Regions from separate parts of the Homo sapiens genome. Here regions 1, 2 and 4 are each linked to region 3. The links come from fine-mapping of genetic effects on gene expression. A gene starts in region 3. Each other region holds a variant in brackets. All regions are shown on one strand. Distances are from middle to middle. Region 1 overlaps TASOR2 (transcription activation suppressor family member 2). Region 2 overlaps GDI2 (GDP dissociation inhibitor 2). Region 3 holds the start of GDI2 (GDP dissociation inhibitor 2). Region 4 overlaps ANKRD16 (ankyrin repeat domain 16).

Region 1 (5,793 bases), 110 kb after region 3:
ATAAAGAGCATGTGAGAAAGGTTAAATTCAATCACAACAGAGGAACATACGTGTTTTATGTTGCAATTTGAAAAGTTAATCACCTATTACTTTTGGACTAATGATTATTTTAAAAAATATAGGTACTGGAAATCATAATTTTTTAAAGTCTTTTTGTTTTACATGATCTAAATTAAAACTAAAAACATTTTAATCATTCTATTCTGGATTCATTAGTTATGACTTATAGCACTTAGTTTAATACCCACTCTTTTCTGATAGGGACCCTGTCTCGATCTTCTCTAAGAGAGAATGTAGCTGGGAGGGTGGTCTTAATTCATTTTCACCAAGTATACCCTCAGAATTCTTGACATAGTCCTGTTCTCTGTTAATGTCATAAATGCTAAAATGAAGAAAGAAAAAAAATCATAAAGTGAACAATTCTATTTATAGCATATTTACTATAGAAACAAATGTTCGCTGAGTAATTTGTATTAGGAATAATTATGTAATATTTATTTACCTCCTTTGACAAGTATTCTCAGCTAAGGACTTAATTTGTTCTATAAGCTATAACACATAATCTGAAATGTTTTTCCTCCAAAAGTCTTTAACTTCTAAAGAAAATTTTGTACACAGAAATATATTATGCTTAATCGCTTTTGCCTTACTGAAAAAAAATCTTTCAAAATGAAGAGATCACAGAACCACATCTTTATTCCACTAGTTGAAAATAACGGAATCAAGCAGAACACAATTTACAAAAATCTCTCTCCTCCCCCAAATTAGTTGTATATATATTCATTAAACAAAACTATTAGTGGTGACTATTATGCATCCAATATCATGCTAAATCTTGGATTTATCAAGACAAATGGCAAACAGTCTCTATTACAGGGAAACAGGCTCTACATTAAAAAAGTTCAGATTAGGCTGGGCGAGGTGGCTCATGCCTGTAATCCCAGCACGCCGGGAAGCTAAGGCAGGCAGATTGTTTGAACTCAGGAGCTTGAGACCAGCCAGGGCAACAAAGTGAGACCCCACCTCTATAAAAAATACAAAAATTAGCCAGGCATGGTGGAGTGCACCTGTAGTCCCAGCTACTTTGGAGGCTGAGGTGGGACGATGGCTTGAGTCTGGGGGGAAGAAGTTGCAGTGAGCTGAGATTGCACCCCTGAACTCCAGCCTGGGTAACAGAGCCAGACCATGTCAGAAAGAGAGAAAGAGAGGAAAGGAAAGAAAGGAAGGAAAGGAAGGAAGGAAGAAAGGAAGGAAAGGAAGGAAGGAAGGAAGGAAGGGAGGAAGGGAGGGAGGGAGGGAGGGAGGAAGGAAGAGATAGAGAAAGAGAGAGAAAAGGAGAGAAAGAAAGAAAAAGAAAGAAAGAAAGAGAAAGAAAGGAAAGAAAGAGAAAGCAAGCAAGTTAGCTCAGAATAGACAAGGAAGAAAAATCTGCAAAGAAATTAGTACTATAAATGTGTAGGAGTATCTAAAACATGATATAGTGGATGTACAGTGATACAACCAATTTTATGGAGATGGAGCTATGTCAAGAAAGATTTCATGGAGGCACAGATACTTGAAATCTGGAAGATATTCCAATGAGGAAGCCAAAAAAGGAAACTAGTGTACATTTTCTAGATAGCAGAAATAGTATGAGCAAATGAACAGCGGTTTAAACATGATACATTAAAGGAACTGCAAATAGTTTAATATGACTGATTAAGGGAAGAAGGGAGAGAAGAATAAGAACGAAGAAAAAGATTACAAAGGTGGTCAAGTTTTCAGTTTTTATCATGAGTCTGTGGAATAAGGATTTTCATATGCTTCACAAAAACAGCATGTATAGTTTTACAGCACATTTTCCCCCCAAAAAGAACTGGAGGTAGAATTGTGTGGATACATTCAAAATTTTTTAGGAAAAGTAGCTATGTTGATAATAATTCATGAAGGAGGTTGTTTATGTAGGGGAAAATTAGGAATAGGGAGACCAGGGTTCTGGTCTACCTATTGAACTCACTAGGTGCTACCACTAATGTGTTTTGAGACAGTGGTTAAAGACACATTGGATTGACTTCCCAACAATCATGTCCCTTTTACTTCCCTTCCATAAAACCACAATTTTGTTCAGGTATCAGGTTATCCCATGGTTCAGAAGAAGTGTGTGTGTGTGTGTGTGTGTGTGTGTGTGTGTGTGTGTGTGTGTGTGAAAATGAGTGAGGGAGAGTGAGTATGTGTGTGTGTGGGGTTGGGGGGGGAGACAGAGAGAGAGAGAGAGAGAAAGAGAATGAGAATCTTAATTACTCTAAGATCATTATGGTAATTCCACTCCCTTTGAATAGTGTTTGTTTTAGGAATAAACATGTGACTCAGTTCTGGCCAGTGAGATATAAATGGAAGTCTACAGAGAGAGTTCTGGGAAACCTTTCTTAGAAAAGGACTCCATCTT[C/T]TAGCCTAGGATCTTGTCTGAAGATGTGTTGCCTGGATCTCCTTGCAACCAAGATGGCAGCCAACATAGAACGGAACAGAACAGAAAGAAACTAGATCCCTGAACTGATGAAATAAACTAACCTGGGGGCTGCCTCATCTTTGGGCTTTATACATGAAATAATAAATGTTCCTTATTGTTTAAACTTTTATTGGAAGCTGAAGACATACTAACTGATGGATTTTGTTAAATTTATACTCTCTAAGGCCTCCTTTAGTTATAATTGCCTTTCTAAAGCTCCTTTCAGTTGTGACTCTACAAGGAACTTTACTGAAGGCTTGCTGTGCATGAGGCATGGTGCACTGGCATCAGATAACTTAGCAAATTCCTTTTTTCTTTGCTGCCATGGATAGAGACGTTATCCTAGTATTTGTTAGCAAGGAAGCTATTGTTATTAATGATAACAATGGCTAACATTTGTTGGGTGCTTACTTTTTTTTTTTTGAGACGGAGTCTTGCTCCGTGGCCCAGGCTGGAGCGTAAGTGGCTTGATTCTGGTTCACTGCAACCTCCACCTCCCGGGTTCAAGCAACTCTCTTGCCTCGGCCTCCCGTGTAGCTGGGATTACAAGTGCCCAGCAACATGCCCGGCTAATTTTTGTATTTTTAGTAGAGATGGGATTTCACCATGTTAGCCAGGTTGGTCTCGAACTCCTGGCCTCAAGTGATCTGCATACCTCGGCCTCCCAAAGTGCTGGAATTACAGGCATGAGCCACCGTGCTAGGCCTAGGTTTCACTACTTAACTGTATGTATTAATCATTGCTGAGCCATACTGTGTAGTCAAGTTCTTTCCTTATACCGTGTTTTGCTTTTCTGAATTTAAAATAGCTTAATTTTCAGTTACCAATCATTATTTCAGCTTGAAATTCTAGAGAACTAACAATATCCTCTGGATAAAGATAGATCAAAGATTTTGTCTGTTTTGAGCAGCTTCTTTTCTTTTTTTTGGAAGGACCTTTCTGGAGCACTATGTCTTCCAGCTTCAATCTGGGCTTGTGCCCTCTGATATTACTGCCTGGCTTTCTAACTTTGCTGGGGGATGTTAAGACACAAAATTGATCTACAGATTCAACACAATCTCAGTTTGCAGAAACTGATGATCTGATTCTAAAATTTATATAAGAAAGATATAAGCCAAAACAATTTTGAAAAAGAACAAAGCTGAAGGACTCACTACCTGATTTTGAGAATTACTACAAAGCTAAAGTAGTCAAGACAAGGTGGTAATGATACAAAGAAAATGCATATAGATCAATGGAACAGAATAGAGTCCAGATAACAGATTTTCAATATTGCCAGTATAATTCCATTGAGAAAGAATATCTTTGCAATAAATGCTGCTACAGAACAACTAAAACGGAGGAAAAAAACATGAACCTCAAACCTCTACCTTAAACCATAAAATTTAACTCAAAATGAATCACAGACCTAAACATAAAAACTATAACTATTTGGCTAAAATTATAAAATTTAAAAAATCATAGGAAAAAATGTACTTGACTATGGGGTACATAAAGTTTTCATAGGGCACAAAATTAGTGACCTAGAAAAATGTATACATCAGACTTCCTAAAAATTAAAACCATCTGATCTTCCAAGGTATCATTATTAAGAAATGGGAAATATTTGTAAAGTACCTGTACCTAGAATATATAAAAAACTCATAGACACATTTCACAAAATAAAGCATATAATAAAAAGAAACATGGGAAATGGGTCAATATTATTAGTTATCAGGGAAGTGCTAATTAAAACCACAATAAAATACTACTGCTCCAGTAGAATGGCTAAAAAGACTGAAAATACCAAGCGTTGGCAAGGATGAGGAGCCTCTGGAACACTCCTAGTAGAAATATAAAGCCAACTGAAAAATTATATAGCCAATTTAAAAAATAACATCAGTTTCTTATAAACACATACTTACCATATGACCCAAAATTCTATTCCTAGATATTTACCCAAGAGAATAAAACATATCCACAAAAACACTTGCACATGAATGTTCAGAGCAGCTTTTTCACAGTAGCCTAAAACTGGAAGCAACTCCAATATTCATCAATAGGTGAATGGATAAACTTGTATATTCACACATAATAATAATCAGCAATTAAAAAAAGTAAAACTGATATATGCATGCATCTCAAAACATTAAACTGGGCAAAAGTCATCAGACACAAGAGTACATACTGTAAAATTCTATACATATACAGTTCAAGAAGCAGCAAAATTAATCTATAGTGATAAAAAGCATTTCATTAGTTGCCTACAGCAGGGGGCAGGAATAGGAAAATTGACTACAAGTGGGGTATGCACAAGGGAACTTTCTGGGGTGATGGACACACACTATTTTTATTGGTGTAGTCATCACATGGTATATACATTTACCAAAATTCACTGAACTATATACTTAAATTATGTTCATTTTATTGTATGAAAATTAGACCTCAATGAAGTTGAGCTGAAAGCCCCAAAACAAAACCTAATGGTTATGAATTTGGCCACAAAGGAAATTCCAAGAGTACTAAAAAACAACTGATCTCTGACCAAAATCAAGTAAAATGACAATGTAACCATAAAAAGTTAATCTCAAAAGCCTCATGTTTGGAAATTTAAATTTTAAAAATCCTACATATAAATGGTTCATAAGTTAAAGAGTAACATGATCTAAGCTTAAGATATTATCTAAAATAGCTATAAGAAACTGTTCATTTCAAATGTATACACTACAAAAGAAAAACATTTAAAGAATCAATAAGCTACGGTCAATTCAAGAACTCAGAAAATGGAACAACACAGTAAACCCAAAGCAAATAAGAGGAGGAAATAAAAAGAGAAGATCAGATATTAATTAAACCGAAGAAAAAATAGCTGAAAAAAGATTAGCTTTTTGACAAAAAATATTGATATATCTTTAGTCAAATTAATCAAGGACAAAACAAGGCACTGAAAACCAACATTACAAATAAAAAGGAGTGTGATTTATATGTACTATAAATTATAAGGGTAATAGAAACAATTTTTATAGAAAAAATTGAAATCATAGAGAAAACAGGGGAATTTTCCAGAAATAATTTATCAAAACCTACTTAAGAAAACAGAATATACCTACAACTATTAAATAAGTGGTAGAGTTAGTTGTTATAGGTATGTAAGTCTCAAGCCCAGAAGTTTTCCCACATAAACATTATTCTCAAGAATAAAAACTTTCTTTTTTTTTTTTTTTGAGATGGAGTCTCACTCTGTCACCCAGGCTGGAGTGCAATGGTGTGATCTCGGCTCACGGCAACTTTCGCCTCCCAGGTTCAAGTGATTCTCCTGCCTCAGCCTC
Region 2 (5,793 bases), 41 kb after region 3:
GTCCATAGTTTTATTTATATGCCAGAGGATTAGACTAATATAGCTATTACTGGTCAACCCTTCCCTTGGCCTTGCCCTTGCCCTTGCCCTTCCCCTTCCCCTGGGTGTGAATCCAGAGAAATGGCAGATTTGCCTCTGATGTGGATAGTCCCGCGACTGCACAAGGCCATTTTAGAACACACACACAAGGAAAAACAGGAGAATAGACAGTGTGGGGTTTTGGGAAAGAGCCGATTTTAGTTGAAGAAGCAGAGTAAAACCCAGACATCGCATGGCTTTAGGCTTTAGCCTCACCACACTCACGAGCCTCCTGTCCAGGAGGGCCATTAGTGTCTCAGGTCTGCTCAGTGTGGACCCCGAAGAGCCATCCATCAGGGTGAGCGAGGAGGGATAAGCTATGGATGCAGAGCCGCTGCGGCCGAGAGGAACTGTTCCGGTGATTGGTTAGCAAGCGGGAGAGTGGAAAGGGGAGAAGAAAACCGTGTATGGGGGTTGAACGCCTCCAGCCAAAGAAAATGAGGTGTAGAGGTCTCTTACTACTAGGGAATGTATCCGAGTCACACAGCACCAAATGTGTTGCTGGTGGAAGGTAGCCGAGTCACAGGCACCAAAATATGTTACCGTGCTGAGATGAATCCGTACGGGTCTGCAGCAACCTCAGTTCTTTTCTCCTCAGAAGAAAGAATGACCAAGGGGCATAAGGTAGAAGGAGAGACTGAGGCAAGTTTTAGAGCAGGAGTGGACGTTTATTGAAAAGCTTTAGGGCAGGAATGAAAGGAAGGAAAGAAAGTACACTTGGAGGAGGGCCGAGTGGGCAGCTCGAAAGACAAGTGCCTGGTTAGTGATTTTTTTTGACTTCGTATTTATAACTGATTATGTTTGTGTTTTTGACTCTGTTTTCTTGCTTTAATCACTTCTAAGCTGACATCTTTCTAGAAGGAAATTGAACAAATGTATATTGTCTGTAACTCATTAAGATCTAAGAAAGGGGACTTTAGGAGTTGAAACAACTATATATTATTAATTGGGATTTTAAAAATTTTCCAGGCTAAGTGCTATTTATGGAGGTACCTATATGCTGAATAAACCCATTGAAGAAATCATTGTACAGAATGGAAAAGTAATTGGTGTAAAATCTGAAGGAGAAGTAAGTAGCTTTTAAAATGAAAAAAATTACTATGTTCTTGTGAAGAAAGTTGTGTATTCTAAATATTGATTTTGGTGTGGACACTGATGCATATGATTTCTGTATGGGAAGTTAGTATTTATTGTGACTAAGGACTAATTACAGTTGCTGTGCTTTGTTTTAAAAGCATCTTTTTTGTTGTCAGTTGTTGATTATTTTAATATTGAAATATGCATTATGGGTGAGCTCTAAATAGTAAGTATTCTGTATTTATAGAGTTTGGGTTGTGCCTGTCTCCCAAATTTTCATTGAAATTGAACTGTACTTGCAGGCCACCTACACGGGTGGGGTTTTGAGCAGCATTTCTCAAATGTGAATTATATATAAAGCATCATTAATCTGGTTCTAGTGCATGTTCTAATCAGTAGGTCTGAGAAGGCTCTGCATTTTCTTGAAACCTCTTAGGTGATGTGGATGCTACTGAAAAAAAAAATCACAAGGAAAAAAAGATCGTTTCCCTTTATCACCATATGAATTAATTCTTCTGCCATTTGACACTGTTACTATCTGCAACAGTTCTTGCAGTAGAGGATGCACTTCAAAGTGCACTGCTTTACTGTCTCACTGGAATTCTAAAAATCTAAGCTTTATCTTTTTAACATTAAGCTGTGTGGGAATGTAGCAACCTCCTGGGTGGTGGGGTGGGGGGCATCTTCAGTTATTTAGGTCTCACTGGAAAGTTTGAGATCAGAGTTTGGTAGGTGGTGTAAGGGGACAATGAGTAAGGGAGAGAAAATACAGGACTGACTTGGGGCAAAAAACGCCTGATAATAATTTGTGAAGCACATTTTCAAACTCATTTATTCCTTACAAGGATCCTAAGAGGCGGGTATTATGTCCAGGTTATACCTGGAGGCTTAAATGAAGAAACATCTACAAGGGCACACAGTTTAATGAATGGCTGAGGTAGAATTGGAATTAAGGTGTTCCGCACCCACAGCCCTCAGTCGTTATACACCTGAGGATGTAAATTCCTGTGCTGGGTGATGTTAGATTTGTGTGTTTTATCTACTAAAATGTTATTTATTTATTTATTTATTTGAGACATCAAATCGTTTTGCTCTGTCGCCGAGGCTGGAGTGCAGTGGCGTGATCTCAGCTCACTTCACCCTCCACCTTCCAGGTTCAAGTGATTCTCCTACCTCAGCCTCCCGAGTAGCTGGAATTACAGATGCATGCCACCATGCCTGGCTAATTTATGTATTTTTAGTAGAGATGGGGTTTCACCATGTTGGCCAGGCTGGTCTCGAACTCCCGGCCCCAAGTGATCCGCCCGCCTCAGCCTCCCAAAGTGTTGGGATTACAGGCATGAGCCACTGTGCCTGGCCTTCTAGACTGTTACTTAATTGGGTCTTTTGAACATATATTTTAGGCAACTTCTTTATAACCCTGTTTCATCTTGACTGTCGTAGTGTGATTGGCTTATCTGCTTTAAATGAAGTTACAAAGCACAAAAGAAGTCATATTTTGTTTGACATGTACATTACTAGGTTTTGTTAATGCTAACTTAATTCTCAGGTATATCAGCACAAATAGCACTGTTTACCATCCAGGTCCAACAAACTTCACTCAGCCACCTTTGTGGGGTTGGGGTCATCAGTATCACTGTCTTCCATCTCCACATCGTGTTCCACTGGAAGATCTTCATCAGGGACAGTAACACTGCTTGTACTTTCAGCATAATAGTTGTTTAGGAGATAGAGATAAATGGTGTGTTTTTTTTTTTCTTCTCAGTCACCAGGCTGGAGTGCAGTGGCACGATCTTGGTTACTGCAACTTCTGCCTTCCGGGTTCAAGTGATTCTCCTGCCTCAGCCTCCCAAGTAGCTGGGACTACAGGCATGTGCCACCATGCCCAGCTAATTTTTGTATTTTTAGTAGAGATGGGGTTTCACCATGTTGGCCAGGCTGGTCTTGGTTTCTTGACCTCGTGATCTGCCTGCCTCGGCCTCCCAAAGTGCTGGGATTACAGGTGTGAGCCACCGCGCTCGGCCAGGGATAAATGTTTTAATCTGTCTTCTGAAAGTTACTTTTATTCTGTATTTTTCTTTTGTTTCATTCTTTGTGTTTCTGAAACTTCAGGGCTTTGATATGAAAGGGAAGGAGGCTATAATACATTTATCTTGCAATTCAAGTTTTTCTTAGGAAGCATAGCCTTAAGATGATAA[G/A]GATTTTAGTCTATGTAGAGTACATTTACTGAGCATTTATTTTTTGTCAGGACACCCACCTATAATGACAGACTTTTTTACACCATTTCATTTAGTTCACTAATGTCCAACCTTTTGGCTTCCCTGTGCCACATTGGAAGAGGAAGAATTGTCTTGGGTCACACATAAAATATGCTAACAGTAATGATAGCTGGAAAAAGGGTCTGTGCATAATTTCGTGATGTCTGCCACCACAAATAAGCAAAAATGTCCTTGCATTCAAGGGGCTGGACGTGGCTGAATTTTAGTACTAACAACAATCCTTTGAGGTTAGGTAGAGCCAGGATTTGAACCCTGATCTGCCCAATTCTAAAACTTATACTTCTGAATACTGTGCAACACAGTTTTCCTAGTATTTGAACAGGATTTACAGTTCATATATCTGTTCAAGGAGAAAATAGTAGGGATAATTGGCAAAGCTAGTTTCAGTAGTTACCGACAGTTTAATAATTACCTTGACTTTTATATTCATTAGATTATGAAGATAACAGATTATATTCAAGGGAAAATTACATTAATATACTGTTTAAAACATTATAGACACTGAATATTAGTCTTTTTCCCTCCATTTTTTTTTTTTGTGATAAAGTACCCATAAAATTTACCATCTTTTTTTTTTTTTTTTTTTTTTTTGAGACAGTCTCACTTTGTTGCCCAGGCTGGAGTGCAGTGGCGTGATCTTGGCTCACTGCAACCTCTGCCTCCTAGGTTCAAGCAATTCTCCTGCCTCAACCTCCTGAGTAGCTGGGATTACAGGTGCCCACCACCACACCCAGCTAATTTTTGTATTTTTAGTAGAGATGGGGTTTCACCAGGTTGGCCAGGCTGGTCTCAAACTCCTGACCTCAGGTGATCTGCCTGCCTCGGCCTCCCAAAGTGCTGGGATTACAGGCGTCAGCCACTGCGCCCGGCCAGAATTTACCATCTTAACCATTGTTAAGTGTACAGTTCAGTGGTATTAAATATATTCACATCATTATACAACCACCACAACCACCATTCATCTCCATAACACTTTTCCTCTTCTTTTTTTTTGAGATGGAGTCTCACTCTGTCGCCCAAGCTGGAGTGCAGTGGCATGATCTTGGCTCACTGCAATCTCTGCCTCCCGTATTCAAGTGATTCTCCTGCCTCAGCCTCCCCAGGTAGCTGGGATTATAGATGCATACCACCACGCCCGGCTAGTTTTTGTATTTTTAGTAGAGACAGGGTTTCCCCATGTTGGCCAGGCTGGTCTTGAACTCCTAACCTCAAATGATCCACCCACCTTGGCCTCCCAAAGTGCTGGGATTTTATAGGTGTGAGCCACTGTGCCCACACTCACTTTTCCTCTTCTAAAGGAAACTACCAATTAAGTAATAACTCCTCGTTCTCTGCTTCCAGCCACTGGCAAGCACCATTCTACTTTCTTTCTCTATGATTTTAACTACTATATTTTATATAAACGGAATAATATAGTATTTGCCTTCTTGTGACTAGTTTATTTCACTTAGCATGATGTCCATGGTTCATCTGTGTTGTAGCATGTGTCAGAATTTCCTTTTTAAGGCTGAATAATATTCCAATGTATGGAAAGATAGACCATAGTTTGCTTATCCATTCATCGATACCTGGATTGCTTCCATGTTTTTGTGAATGTATTGTGAATAATGCTACTCTGAAAATGGGTGTACAAATGTCTCATCAAGACCATGCGTTTAGTTCTTTTGGGTGTGTACCCAGAAGTGGAATTGCTAGATCATATGGTAATTCTGTTTTTAATGTTTGAGAAACTGCCATACCATTTTCCATAGTGGCTGGACCATTTTACATTCCTGTCAGTAGTGGACAAGAAGTTCCAGTTTCTCCATATCCTTGACACTTAATTTTGTTTTGATAGTAGCAATCTTAACGGTTGTGAGGTAGTAGCTCACTGAAGTTATGATTAGTGATGTTGAACATCTTTGCATGTGCTTATTGGCCACTTACATATCTTCTTTGGAAAAATGTCTATTCAAGTCCTTCGATTTTTTTTTTTTTTTTCTTTTGAGACGGAGTTTTGCTCATTGCCCAGCCTGGAGTGCAATGGCGTGATCTCGGCTTACCATAACCTCCATCTCCCAGATTCAAGCGATTCTCCTGCCTCAGCCTCCCGAGTAGCTGGGACTACAGGCATGCGCCACCGTGCCCAGCTAATTTTGTATTTTTAGTAGAGACGAGGTATCTCCATGTTGGTCAGGCTGGTCTCCAACTCCTGACCTCTGGTGATCCGCCTGTCTTGGCCTCCCGAAGTGCTGGGATTACAGACGTGAGCCACCGCGCCCAGCCCTTTGATCATTTTTGAATCAGGGTTTTTTTTGTTGTTGTTTTAGGAGTTCTTGATGTATTGTGGATATTAATCCCTTATTTGCAGATATTTTCT
Region 3 (5,793 bases):
TTTTTTGAGACGGAGTCTCACTCTGTTGCCCAGGCGGGAGTGGAGTGGCGCGATCTCGGCTCACTTCAGCCTCCGTCTCCCGGGTTCAAGCGATTGCTCTGCCTCAGCTTCCCGGGTAGCTGGGACTACAGGCACGTGCCACCATGCCCGGCTAATTTTTGTATTTTTAGTAGAGATGGGGTTTCACCATATTGGCCAGGCTGGTCTCAAACTCCAAACTCCTGACCTTGTGATCCGCCTACCTCAGCCTCCCAAAGTGCTGGGATTACAGGCATCAATCACCGTGCCCGGCCTCCAGCTAATTTTTTTTATAGGGACAGTGTCTCTGTTACCTAGGCTCTACAGCACAGGCTGGTCCCAAGTGATTCTCCCATCTCCCACTCCTGGCCCCAAGTGATCCTCCCATCTCAGCCTCCCAAAGTGTTAGGATTACAGGTGTGAAGCACTGTGCCTGGCTCAGGTACAACATTTTAGATGCACTCAGTCCGTTAAGGCTTAGTCCAGGTTTGATTGTTATTGTCCTTCTGTTGGGCCATAGGGCCTGTACTGTGAACTAAAATGAACTTCAGTGTTAAGTAAGGAAGGGATCCTTATTAGCCTTAAATTCAATTCCCTTATCTCAGTGTCTTCAAGTTTCTCACAACTCTTGAGTATCGATAAAATAGTCTTCACCTAAAACATGGTTAACATAATTCAGTTGACATGCTTAAATTTCTCTTCAAGAGCCAGAGGCTGATGGCAATTGTGAAAAAAGCTCTTTATTGTTATTGCTAATAAAAAAAAAAGGGCCAATAGTCAGGTGTGGTGGCCTGTACCTCTTGTCCCTGCTACTGGGGAGACTGAGGTGGGAGGATGGCTTGAGCCCAGGAGATCAAGGCTGCAGTGAGGCATGATTACACCGCTGCACTCCAGCCTGGACGACAGGGTGAGATTGTCTCAGAAAAATAAAGAAAAAGGGTTATTTCATATTGGTTCAAAAATATAGGTAGTATGACCCCCTGATGACTTGAAGACAGAGCAACAGAAGGACCTTCTTTAGTCATCATTAGCTTAGCCAAAAGAAAAGTCAGTTACACTCACTGTTGCATAATCAGTTGTATGGTCAACTGTGCACTAATTCATTTGGTCACAAATATATACAATCAAATTAAGGTTGAATGTAAATTTAAACTTTACTTTTGCTTTCTTCTCCCCTCCCCCCCAGAAAGATCCATGGTCCAATATAACATATCTTCTTCAAGTATTTATGGGGTAAGAAACATTTTAAAAAGTTGTTACATTCTTTCCTCTATCTTAATGATTTAAATATGAGCAAGTTCGGTCTATCAAGGCAGGCTCTGAATAGCTACTATCGAGAAGTATTTGAGGAGTTCTTGAATGCCAAATCTTCATTGTCTGCTGACTCTGCAGATTTATCACGTGCTGAAAGCACAGGTTTTCCAACTGTCAACGTCTTTACGAAATTCACCTGCTTAGGCTTTCGTGGGGTCGGCCTCTTGGAGCTGAGAACACAGCTTCTGCTTACACCTGTGTCCTCAATGAAGCCAGAGATTCCTAAGAGAATTCTAGAAAAAGAGGAGCGGGGTAGAAGGCAAGCAAGGAACAGTTTCTAAGCTTAGGGCCTAAACCTTTGCATACAAGGATCAGCTACCACGTTTACAGCGGCTTTAAGTTACAGCCCTCGGTAGGTGCAGATCGGCTTCCCAATGAAACCTGGCTTTCACTTTCATCTCTGTTAAGGGTTACCTTTTCAAAAGAAGCCGCTTTTCCTCCTACCAATTTCCTAAAGCGCCCACCGGCAACGCACTAAACAAGGAGGGCACAGAGCGGGAAAAAGGACACGTGTGATTTCCGAACTCTTCCCGGCGGGCTCCGGGCCCCGGCAAGCCCAGCCCCGCGGGAGGAACCAAGGCCGCCACCCCCGAGAGGCAGCCCGGCCCGCGCTCCTCGCCCACGTGGCCGCCGCACGCGCCCGCTCAAAGTCCAAGGGCGGCGATCCGGCTCTGGGACCTTGGACCGAGCGAGCTCCCGCCCCGACGGCGGGAGTCAGAACGGTGGTGGCCAGCAGTCCCCGCCCGCGGCTCCGTGCACCTCCACCCCGGCCCGCGCGCCGCCTCCCGAACCACCGTGGCAGAGGCCGCAAGGGGAACCGGAAGCCAAAATGGCGACGCCCCGCCCTTTTCCTCTCGCGAGAGGCGGGGAAGGAAAAAAAGTTGTGCGAGCGACGGGGACGTAACCAATTAGAGTGCCGGGAGCGCCTGATTGGCGGCCCTCCCGGCGCCTGCAGGCCCCGCCCCGGCTGCGGAGGCTCAGTCACAGCCCTCCCCTCCTCGCTCCCTCCCCTCCTCTCCCCGCCCAGTTCTTCTCTTCCCGTCTGAGGTGGCGGTCGGTCTCGCCTTGTCGCCAGCTCCATTTTCCTCTCTTTCTCTTCCCCTTTCCTTCGCGCCCAAGAGCGCCTCCCAGCCTCGTAGGGTGGTCACGGAGCCCCTGCGCCTTTTCCTTGCTCGGGTCCTGCGTCCGCGCCTGCCCCGCCATGAATGAGGAGTACGACGTGATCGTGCTGGGCACCGGCCTGACGGTGGGCGCCAGGGCTGAGGGGCCGGGGCTGAGCAGCCGGGGCGGGCGCACCCCCGGCTCCTGCACGGCCCGCGGGTCGCAGCTCCTCGGGGGTCTCGTTCTGCCGTCAGCCGTAGTTTTCGGGACGGGAGTCGTGGCTAGGGGCGCGGGCGGGTTCAGGGGCGCCCCGCGTCCCGGGGCGAGCGGGCGGCTCCCAGTGTGAGGGGCAGGCGGGGAAATGGAGATGCGGGCCGTGAGGCTCGGGGCGGGGTGACGGCCGAGCCCGGCCTCTGCGCTTGCCCCCAGCGGAAGCGGAGGGGAGGGGAGAAGGCCGCCCGGGCCAAGGGTCCCGCTCCCCGGTTTGGGCCGGTGACCTCGCCCGGTTGGAAACCAGCACCCGAGGCGGAGGGGACGGTGCAGGCCTCGCGGTTGCATTTCCTATTCCGCCTCGGCCGCTGCCCCGGGTCAGTCTGGCTGCCAAAGCCGAGTACGGGGTTTCCTGACAAGTCTTGGATAATCACTGCTTCGGAACTGCTAGGGCTTGATTAACTTATATTTTTGGCGAAAACGTGGAAATTAGTCTTTTAATCCTTTCTCCCCCCTGCTAATGAGAAGTATTATTGAATCCTTTTAGCCACCCTCCCTTCTCACTTACTGAGCATCTGTAGAATTGGAATTGAGTTTTTTCAAAACTTGTCCGTCAAATGCTTTCGCACCTGACCTTCGCCGCCTTTTCCTTTTGTTTGGTGGGTTCTCTGCCTCCTTTGTCTCTTCTGGACTGTTTTCCCCTAAGAATTGGGTTGGTGATGGATTGCTAAAAGCCAAGTTCTCTGTACTCCGAAGCTTTCTTCAGGGAGTTGGAAGATAATAACATGAAGAATGCATTGTAATATATGAATGCAAGGTGTACCTAATATCATGGTATATTGATTTTCCTGGTTATCTGTTTCTAAGGGAACTTTAGGTAATCTGTAGATAACGCAGGCAGGTTCTGTAGTTTGTACTTTTTCTGTTCTTTTTTTTTTTTTTTTAAATGTTCATCTTGCAAAAGAATTCACTTTGGAGAAAACCATTTTAACTATCAATTTTTGGGGAAATTTGAAATTCTAACTTTGGGCTGCTTGATCATAATTAAGATGAATACTGATGTAAATCTTGTGTATCCTATGTACTCTGACTTCAAATTCCTGAGTCATTTAATGTAGACTTCCACTTCAAATTTTTTGAAATTTATTATAATCTCTCAGGGTCAAACCAATTTTTTTTTTTTTTTTTACAGGTAACATCCCAAAATAACACTTTTAGATGTCTCTAGGCAAGAGAAAACCTTCGAACTTTTATTTGGCTAATTTTTTAGGAAAGGTTTGTGAAGAATTAGAATCGTGTTTTTCTGGTCTGTCATTTTTCTGTTTATAGTTATATGCAATTATTAGAGAATATTCATTCTGAATACTTCGTTATGTTTGACCAATCCAGGAATAATCCTGTGTCTGTCTTTGAAAAGCTGGAAGACTGTTGGATGCCTAAATGAATAGGCCCTACCCACTGCAGGTTTTGTGCTTTTTTTTTTTTTTTTTTAAGTGCCTAATTGGGATTCCAAGCTGAGCTTAGTAGTTTGTGGTGGATTTTGCCTGTTGGAATGGGTAGTGTTGCTGCCAGCGTGTTTTAAGAGCCGGTTAGTTCCACCGTTTTTCTATGGTTGTTGCTGGTCTTTCAGATTTGCTCACAATTGAGGTCAGTTAAGCATGCACGAGTGAGTGCAAATCCACCATCATGCAGGCTTCCACAAGCCTCGTTCACATCACTTTGTATCAAAGATGGTGAAAGTGTTTTTATATAACAAGTTAAGATAATGAGCTTTGTTTAAATTTTCATTCGGATTGTGAACTCTTTGATGAATGGTAGATGCATACTTAACTAGAAATCAGACCTGTTTCTGCTGTCATTTTGTAGCTGTGATAACTTTAATCTCTGTGAGCCTTCCTAAGTTTTCTGAGATGTTCTTTGATAATTATATCAATTCAGGACAATCACATTATTACCATCATTGATAGGAGTAGTGATGACAGGATGATTTTGATAATGAGAAATCATATATCCTTATTTTTAGTGTTACCAGGAATTAGATGATTAAAAATTAGAAGAAGAGAAAACCAAAGTTAGCACTCAGAATTAACTTTTGAATGTCTGGAGTTAATTAATTTTCTTAAAATTTACTTTAGTGCCTGAGACTTAAGAACCTAAAAAAAGGCAAGTACTTTCAGTGTTAGGAACTTGTTACTTTTAAAGAAGTGTAAGGAAGTGCTGGAGTTGCTGTGTTGCTTAGTGCTGCCATTGTTTGTATGAGTTGTTAAGTCTAAGCTCATAATCACAAATATTGATAGTTATCTTAATCAAGAAGATACAAAACGATTTGGTATAAAGGAGTAAAATCTTCATTCTGTGTGTAAAAGAAATGGAATATTCCACACAATTGAATTTTCTGAGGAACTAAAGGTTATCTCTAAAGAGCACAGCTTTTGGATAATGCCTTTCTAAATGCTGTCACAACTTCTTTAACAAACTAAGAAACATAATTTACTTGATAACCAAGTTTTCACATAGTGAAGATTAACTATTGTGTTATGCTGTAACATGGTGAAGCCATGAAGACCCCGCCAGCTTTGTAGGAACTTTTGCCCCCTTTACTCTCAGGCTGCTATGCTTTTTGAGCTCTTCAGTTTACTCTTCATATTTTTTCCCTCTATCTTACTTTACTGTTAGGCTGGCAACATTTACTTTTCTCTGCTTTCAGCATGTGTAGGCAGCCTCTCACCACATAATTTGCACATAGTTCACTATGGACTTGGAAATAAATTCACGAGTCTTGTTAGACATAGTAGATTAAAACAATAAGAGTAACTAGTTCCACAGCTGTTTGTGCTTCCCAGAGGTTTTTTTCTTCCCATTTTTTGTTCTACACAGTAAGAATTTATGAATAGAAATATATACTTTAGTGATGTATACCAGATGATTCTCAGCATCATATGTTTAAAAACTTGCTTTACATCCCAGATACTTTTCCTCATTTCTCTTTATCAGAATTTTGTGATTTCAGATTCAGAGAAGGTTTTATACTTGATTTTAAAATTCTGAACTAAAATTCAGATTGCCTCTTGGATTTGCTTAATCTTTGATTTGCTCTTTGAGAGTTCTTGCTTATAGCTGTGTTAGAGTTCTGTAGACAAAGGACTTTCT
Region 4 (5,793 bases), 48 kb before region 3:
GTGCATCCAGAGTTGTTTGTTCTTCCCAGTGGGTTTGTGGTCTTGCTGACTTCAGGAATGAAGCCGCAGACCCTCACGGTGAGTGTTATGGCTCTTAAAGTTGGTGTGGACCCAAAGAATGAGCAGCAGCAAGATTTATTATGAAGAACAAAAGAACAAAGCTTCCACAGTGTGGAAGGGGACCCAAGTGGGTTGCTGCTGCTGGCAGGGGGTGGCCAGCTTTTATTCTCTTATTTGTCCCCGCCCACGTCCTGCTGATTGGTCCATTTTACAGAGTGCTGATTGGTCCACTTTACAGCGTGCTGATTGGTATGTTTACAATCCTTTAGCTAGACACAGAGCGCTGATTGGTACATTTTTACAGAGTGCTGATTGGTGCATTTACAATCCTTTAGCTACACAGAAAAGTTCTCCAAGTCCCCATTTGACCCAGGAAGTCCAGCTGGCTTCACCTCTCAGTATGAACCTTTAATATGAGCTCTGCCCTCTAACTTTGTGAGCGTACAGCACAGTAACATTCACCTCAGGCCCAGTGCTGCCCACCCATCTGGAGGACTGATTCTTCTGGCACAGGGGAAACTTGATCTGAATTGAGAGCAGCTCCCCCTTCCCTCTCCTGTGGGATCTGCATGTCTCCCAAGTTCCACAGTAATGCTGGTGTGGACACTGCGTTGGGGAGGCCTCGTGTTGAAAGCCCATGGAGTCAGGGACGTGGCAGGATCACTGGCTGTATAGCAGCAGCTGAGGGTCCCTGTCCTGCAGTTTTCTCCACCACAGTCAGCTGCTCCGGGACAGTAGGTGGAAAGTCAGAATTCACTAAGATGGGGACTTTTCCAGGCAAACAGAGCAGAAGGGTCATTTAGCACAGTGTCTGGTACAGGGGAAATGCCCAAAACACACAGCTTGTTACTATCTAGCGCCAGCCTCCCCTTCCCTTCTCCCTTCCAACTGCGCATGGGACTCTCCCTCTCTGACTGTGCAGCATGTAGAGCCAGGCCCTGTAGCCAGCAGCCCTGAGTCCAGCTGTGGGACCTTGTGCTAGCTGCTTGCCCTCTCTGAGCTTCTGTTTCATCTGTAAACTGAGATGATAATAACTCTTTCTTCACAGAGTTGCTGGGAGCCTGAGCACCTTTCGTTTTTCGGCTCAGAGAAAGCCAAGTGCAACTTGCTTCAGTCATCCTGAACCTGAGTTCAACCAACCGCAGCCACCTACGTTTGACCCCAGCGAGATCAAAGTTGTATATCTGAGGTGTACCAGTGGTGAAGTCAGTGCCACATCTGCACTGGCCCCCAAGGTCAGCTCCCTGGGTCTGTCTCCAAAAATGGTTGCTGATGACATCACCAACCATTGACTGGAAGAGTCTGAGGATGATAGTGAAACTGACCAGCCACAGCAGACAGGCCCAGATTGAGGTGGTGCCTTCTGCCTCTGCCCTGATCGTCACAACCCTCAGGAACCACCGACAGAAAGAAAGAAACACAAAAACATGAAACACAGTGGTAGCACCACTTCTGATGAGATTGTCAACATTGCCTAACAGATGCAGCAGCAGTCTTTAGCCAGAGAACTCTCTGGAACCATTAAAGAATTCCTGGGGGCCGGTTGCGGTGGCTCATGCCTGTAATCCCAGCACTTTGGGAGGCCGAGGCGGGAGGATCATGAGGTCAGGAGATCGAGACCATCCTGGCTAACGTGGTGAAACCCCGTCTCTTACTAAAAATACAAAAAAATTAGCCAGGCATGGTGGTGGGCGCCTGTAGTCCCAGCTACTCAGGAGGCTGAGGCAGGAGAATGCTGTGAACCCTGGAGGCAGAGCTTGCAGTGAGCCGAATATGCGCCACTGCACTCCAGCCTGGGCAACAGAGCAAGACTCCGTCTCCAAAAAAAAAAAAAAAAAAAAAGAATTCCTGGGGCCTGCCCAGTCTGTGAGCTGCCATGTTGATAGTATCACAGATGATACCAACAGTGAAGCTGTGGAATGCCCAGCTAGTTAAAGAATGCAAAGGAAAATATTTTCACAAAGGGTTATCTGATAACCAAAAAAAAAAAAGACATTTCATCTAAGCCACTTAACACCGTGTCTGATGTGTAGTAAATAATAAATGTCAATGATTCTCAAAGAACCCAGGAATAGAAAAAGCATTTAATAAAAATTAGCTCTTGGCATAATCTCTTCATCCACACCCAGCAGAGTCGTCAGATGTCTTCCAGGTTCACAAGAATTAATTTCTCCGCCCCTGTTCCTGCTTTGCACTTTGTAGCAATTATCCCATGGTTCGCCTTATGTTAGAACTATTTATATAAGTGGTAGTCAAGGCCACTGAGTCATGCATCCCTGGAGGTCAGTTACTATTTCTTTTTATGAGTCAGAGTCACTCTGCCGCCCAGGCTGGAGTGCAGTGGTACGATCTCGGCTCACTGCAACCTCCGCCCCCTGGGTTCAAGTGATTTTTCTGCCTCAGCCTCCCAAGTAGCTGGGATTACAGGCTCCCACCACCGTGCGCGGCTAATTTTTGTATTTTTAGTAGAGACAGGGTTTCATCATGTTGGCCAGGCTGGTCTCAAACTCCTGACCTCAGGTGATCCAACCGTCTCAGCCTCCCAAAGTGCTGGGATTACAGGCGTGAGCCACCGCACCCCGCCTGGGTCAGTTACTGTATCTTACGCACCTTACAAACCCCAGAAGGCTGCACACAGCTCCTGCACATGGTATGCCTTCAAGGAATTACCCATGGATTTGAATAAGGTTATATATGATGTAACACTCATGCGCTTTATTTCATTTTTAATGAGTTTATATTCTAAAATATTTGCTTCTGGGGAAAAATAATTCAGACAGTACAAATAAAGATTATTCCAAATAGGATCATATAACACTCTTGCAACTTTAAACTGAGTGCATTGTTTCTCATTAGTTCTTTTTGTTTTGTTATTTTCATTTTCTCATTAGTTCTTAAAGATCTACCTCATTCTTTTTAACTTTGCATAATGTTGCATTCTTTCTGACATTCCATCTTTCAGATGTGCCACAATTTGTCTAAGCTGTTCCC[T/G]ATTTCTGGACATTTTAGGACATTCTGGGGTTGTTTAAGTTATTATAAACAGCAGTGCCGGACACATCTTTGTGTCCTTATGGGAATGACTGGAAGATAAATTCCTAGAAGCGGATCAAAGGATCTGTCCATTTTTTTAGGTTGCCAACTGTATCAGCTACAGTTCAGTTAGCAGAGACTAGCGTTCATTGGAGCCAGCTTATGCAGAAGATTTGTTACGGGGTCCTGATGGTATGCAGAATTGTCAGGAAGGCTCGAGAACAAATCTCGTTGAACTTTCAGGGACGATATCAAGGGCTGTACTTCAGACCTAGGCCTCAAAAAGAAGTGCCTTTTCAATCAGGAAAATCTTTGCCAGTATAGGAAGCTGCTGCCTTCGCTTCCAACTCCAGAAGCTTGCTGTCTTCATCTGCTACAGTCGAGAGGCCAAATGATCAGAAAACACTCCACAGAAAATCACTTGCAGCCTTTGCCAGTGGAAGCAGAAATACGGCTTTCGCTTCTGCTTTCCGAAACTCAAGCAATTAGCAGAATCCAACTCACATCTCAAAATCTGGACCTAGGGGAGCCTGGGGCATGTAGCTGGTAACTTCCCTGTGTCTGCAGTGTGGGGCTCACATGCCCAGGAGGCTGGGATGGGTCTTGAGCACCACAGACATCGCTTTTGCCAAGATTCCTTCCCAGGCATACCCATCACCAAAGCTGTGTGGTATCGCACTTTTTTTTTTTTTTTGAGACGGCGTCTCACTCTCGCCCAGGCTGGAGTGCAGTGGCACAATCTCAGCTCACTGCAACCTCCATCACCTGGGTTCAAGCGATTCTCCTGCCTCAGCCTCCCAAGTAGCTAGGATTATAGGCGCACACCACCACTTCCAGCTAATTTTTGTATTTTAGTAGAGATGGGGTTTCACCATGTTGGCCAGGCTGGTCTCAAACTCCTGACCTCAGGTGATCCACCAGCCTCGGCCTCCCAAAGTGCTGGGATTACAGGCGTGAGCCACTGCGCCTGGCCACGGTATCACACTTTTAATGGCCACTAACATGATGTACTATCTCATGATTTTAATTTTGCATTTCTTTTTTTTTTTTTTTTTAAAGACAGGGTCCTGTTCTGTTGCCCAGACTGGAGTGCAGTGGTGTGACCATAGCTCACTGCAGCCTTGACCTCCTAGGCTCAAGCAACCTCGACCTCCTAGGCTCAAGCAATCCTCCCTTCTCAGCCTCCTGAGCAGCTGGGACCACAAGCACGCACCAGCTCGCCCAGCTAATTTTTAAAATTTATGTAGAGATTCCACTTTTATAGGGGGGTCTCACTGTGTTGGCCAGGCTGGTCTCGAACTCCTGGCCTTAAGCAGTCCTTTCACCTTGGCCTCCAAAAGTGTTGGGATTACAGGCATAAGCCACCACACCCGGCCTTGGCATTTCTCAATCAGATTGAAGATCTTTAGATTTGTTTTTTTGGCCATTATAGCCCTTTTTCCTATTTTTACCTGTATCAGTTAGCTGTTACTAAATGACAGACCACCCCAAAGCTCACTGGGTTGAAACAGGAGTCTGTAGGGCATCTGGGTGGCTTTGCTGCTCGCAACTGGGCTCACTCCTGCGTCCCGTCAGCCAGTGAGTTGCTGAGCTGGTATAGGATGGCCTTGGGTGGATCAAGCTGGCTCTGCTCCCCATGGTCTCTCCATTCGGCTAGCCCAGGCTTATTTTTCATGACAGTGGCAGAGATTCAAGAGAGAAAAGAGACTTAAATGTGCTTTCCAGTCTCCGCTCTGTTTGTGTAGATGCTTCCATCCCATTGGCCAAAGCAAGGCATGGTCATGCCCAGAATTAGTGTAGGGGGCAGAACCCACAGACTGGACACAGAGGCCATTGATTGGGGCCATTAATGAAACCAGTTCTTGCTTCATCTTTTGACCATTGTTTTGTCTTGTTGATTTGTAAGAGTCATTTTTATATTGGGTAAATTAGCTCTACACATAATTTCAAATAATGACAAAATTTGGGTTATACATTTACAAGTAAAAAAAAAAACAGACTACAGCACAGCAGAAATAATCTCCTTTATAGCTCCTTTAAAAAAAAAGAGCTCTTGTGAGTAGATACAGGCATACACAGGCACTCACTACAATGCTGGGAGTGGGATGGCACAGATTCCTTGGATATGATAGGGTGTTTCTATTTAGATTACAGTATGTGGTACCTTTAAAGCAGCTCTCAGAGTTCTAGAGCTTCCACCTGTGCCAGCCTACAACATGCATGGTCTTTATTTTTCCCAGTGTTGCTGAAAATCCACGATTAGCTAAAAGGTAAATGAACGCAAAAGACGTAGGAACAAAATCCAGCTTGTGGCTCGTCCTGTCCCTTGAACACAGAGCCTTGGGTCTACCACATCCTTTCCTCTCTTCCAGCTGATACAGACTTAGATAATTCCATTTTGTGATTTAATATTAGATGGAGGTGGGGTGGCTCACACCTGTAATCCCAGCACTTTGGGAGGCTGAGGCTGGAGGATGCCTTGAGCCCAGGAGTTCACAGCTGCAGTGAGCTATGATCACACCACTGCACTCCAGCCTAGGTGACTGAGTGAGACCCTGTCTCTAAATAAAGACCAAAAAATAACAGTGGACTAAACCAAAGTTTATTTTCTTTCCCGCATAAGAGTCTGGGCATAGCCAAGTACAGATGAGCTCAACCAGCCCCAGGTGTCAGCCCCCCGGTTCCTTCTGCTGGTTGTTCTGC

Evidence for each region. PIP is the estimated chance that this variant, and not a neighbour inherited with it, causes the effect.
Region 1: its variant is the best candidate, but not a certain one, in a credible set for the expression of GDI2 in whole blood (TOPMed, PIP 0.87).
Region 2: its variant is the best candidate, but not a certain one, in a credible set for the expression of GDI2 in whole blood (INTERVAL, PIP 0.70).
Region 4: its variant is the best candidate, but not a certain one, in a credible set for the expression of GDI2 in whole blood (INTERVAL, PIP 0.82).

What each region holds. Positions count from the first base shown.
Region 1 is chr10:5,704,119-5,709,911 of GRCh38, reverse strand. All of the region lies in intron 1 of TASOR2 (transcription activation suppressor family member 2), which reads right to left. Among named protein-coding and RNA genes, the nearest start is that of TASOR2, 22 kb to the right of the region's middle. The variant C/T (reference allele first, on the strand shown) is at 2,426.
Region 2 is chr10:5,769,196-5,774,988 of GRCh38, reverse strand. GDI2 (GDP dissociation inhibitor 2) reads left to right here. Exons shown (of 11, transcript NM_001494.4): 7 at 1,048-1,147. Among named protein-coding and RNA genes, the nearest start is that of GDI2, 41 kb to the left of the region's middle. The variant G/A (reference allele first, on the strand shown) is at 3,354.
Region 3 is chr10:5,809,999-5,815,791 of GRCh38, reverse strand. It overlaps GDI2 (GDP dissociation inhibitor 2), which reads left to right and starts at 2,358. Exons shown (of 11, transcript NM_001494.4): 1 at 2,358-2,578. The coding sequence starts at 2,534. It overlaps LOC124902367 (a long non-coding RNA gene), which reads left to right and starts at 2,595. Exons shown (of 2, transcript XR_007062041.1): 1 at 2,595-3,477; 2 at 3,836-5,793. RefSeq lists enhancers at 1,588-1,687, 1,751-2,343, 2,344-2,936 and silencers at 1,888-2,067, 2,128-2,397, 2,538-3,077.
Region 4 is chr10:5,858,007-5,863,799 of GRCh38, reverse strand. It overlaps ANKRD16 (ankyrin repeat domain 16), which reads left to right. Exons shown (of 8, transcript NM_019046.3): 8 at 1,109-2,184. It also overlaps the pseudogene RPL12P28. Among named protein-coding and RNA genes, the nearest start is that of TRV-TAC3-1, 7.1 kb to the right of the region's middle. RefSeq lists enhancers at 614-743, 944-1,013, 1,314-1,363. The variant T/G (reference allele first, on the strand shown) is at 3,052.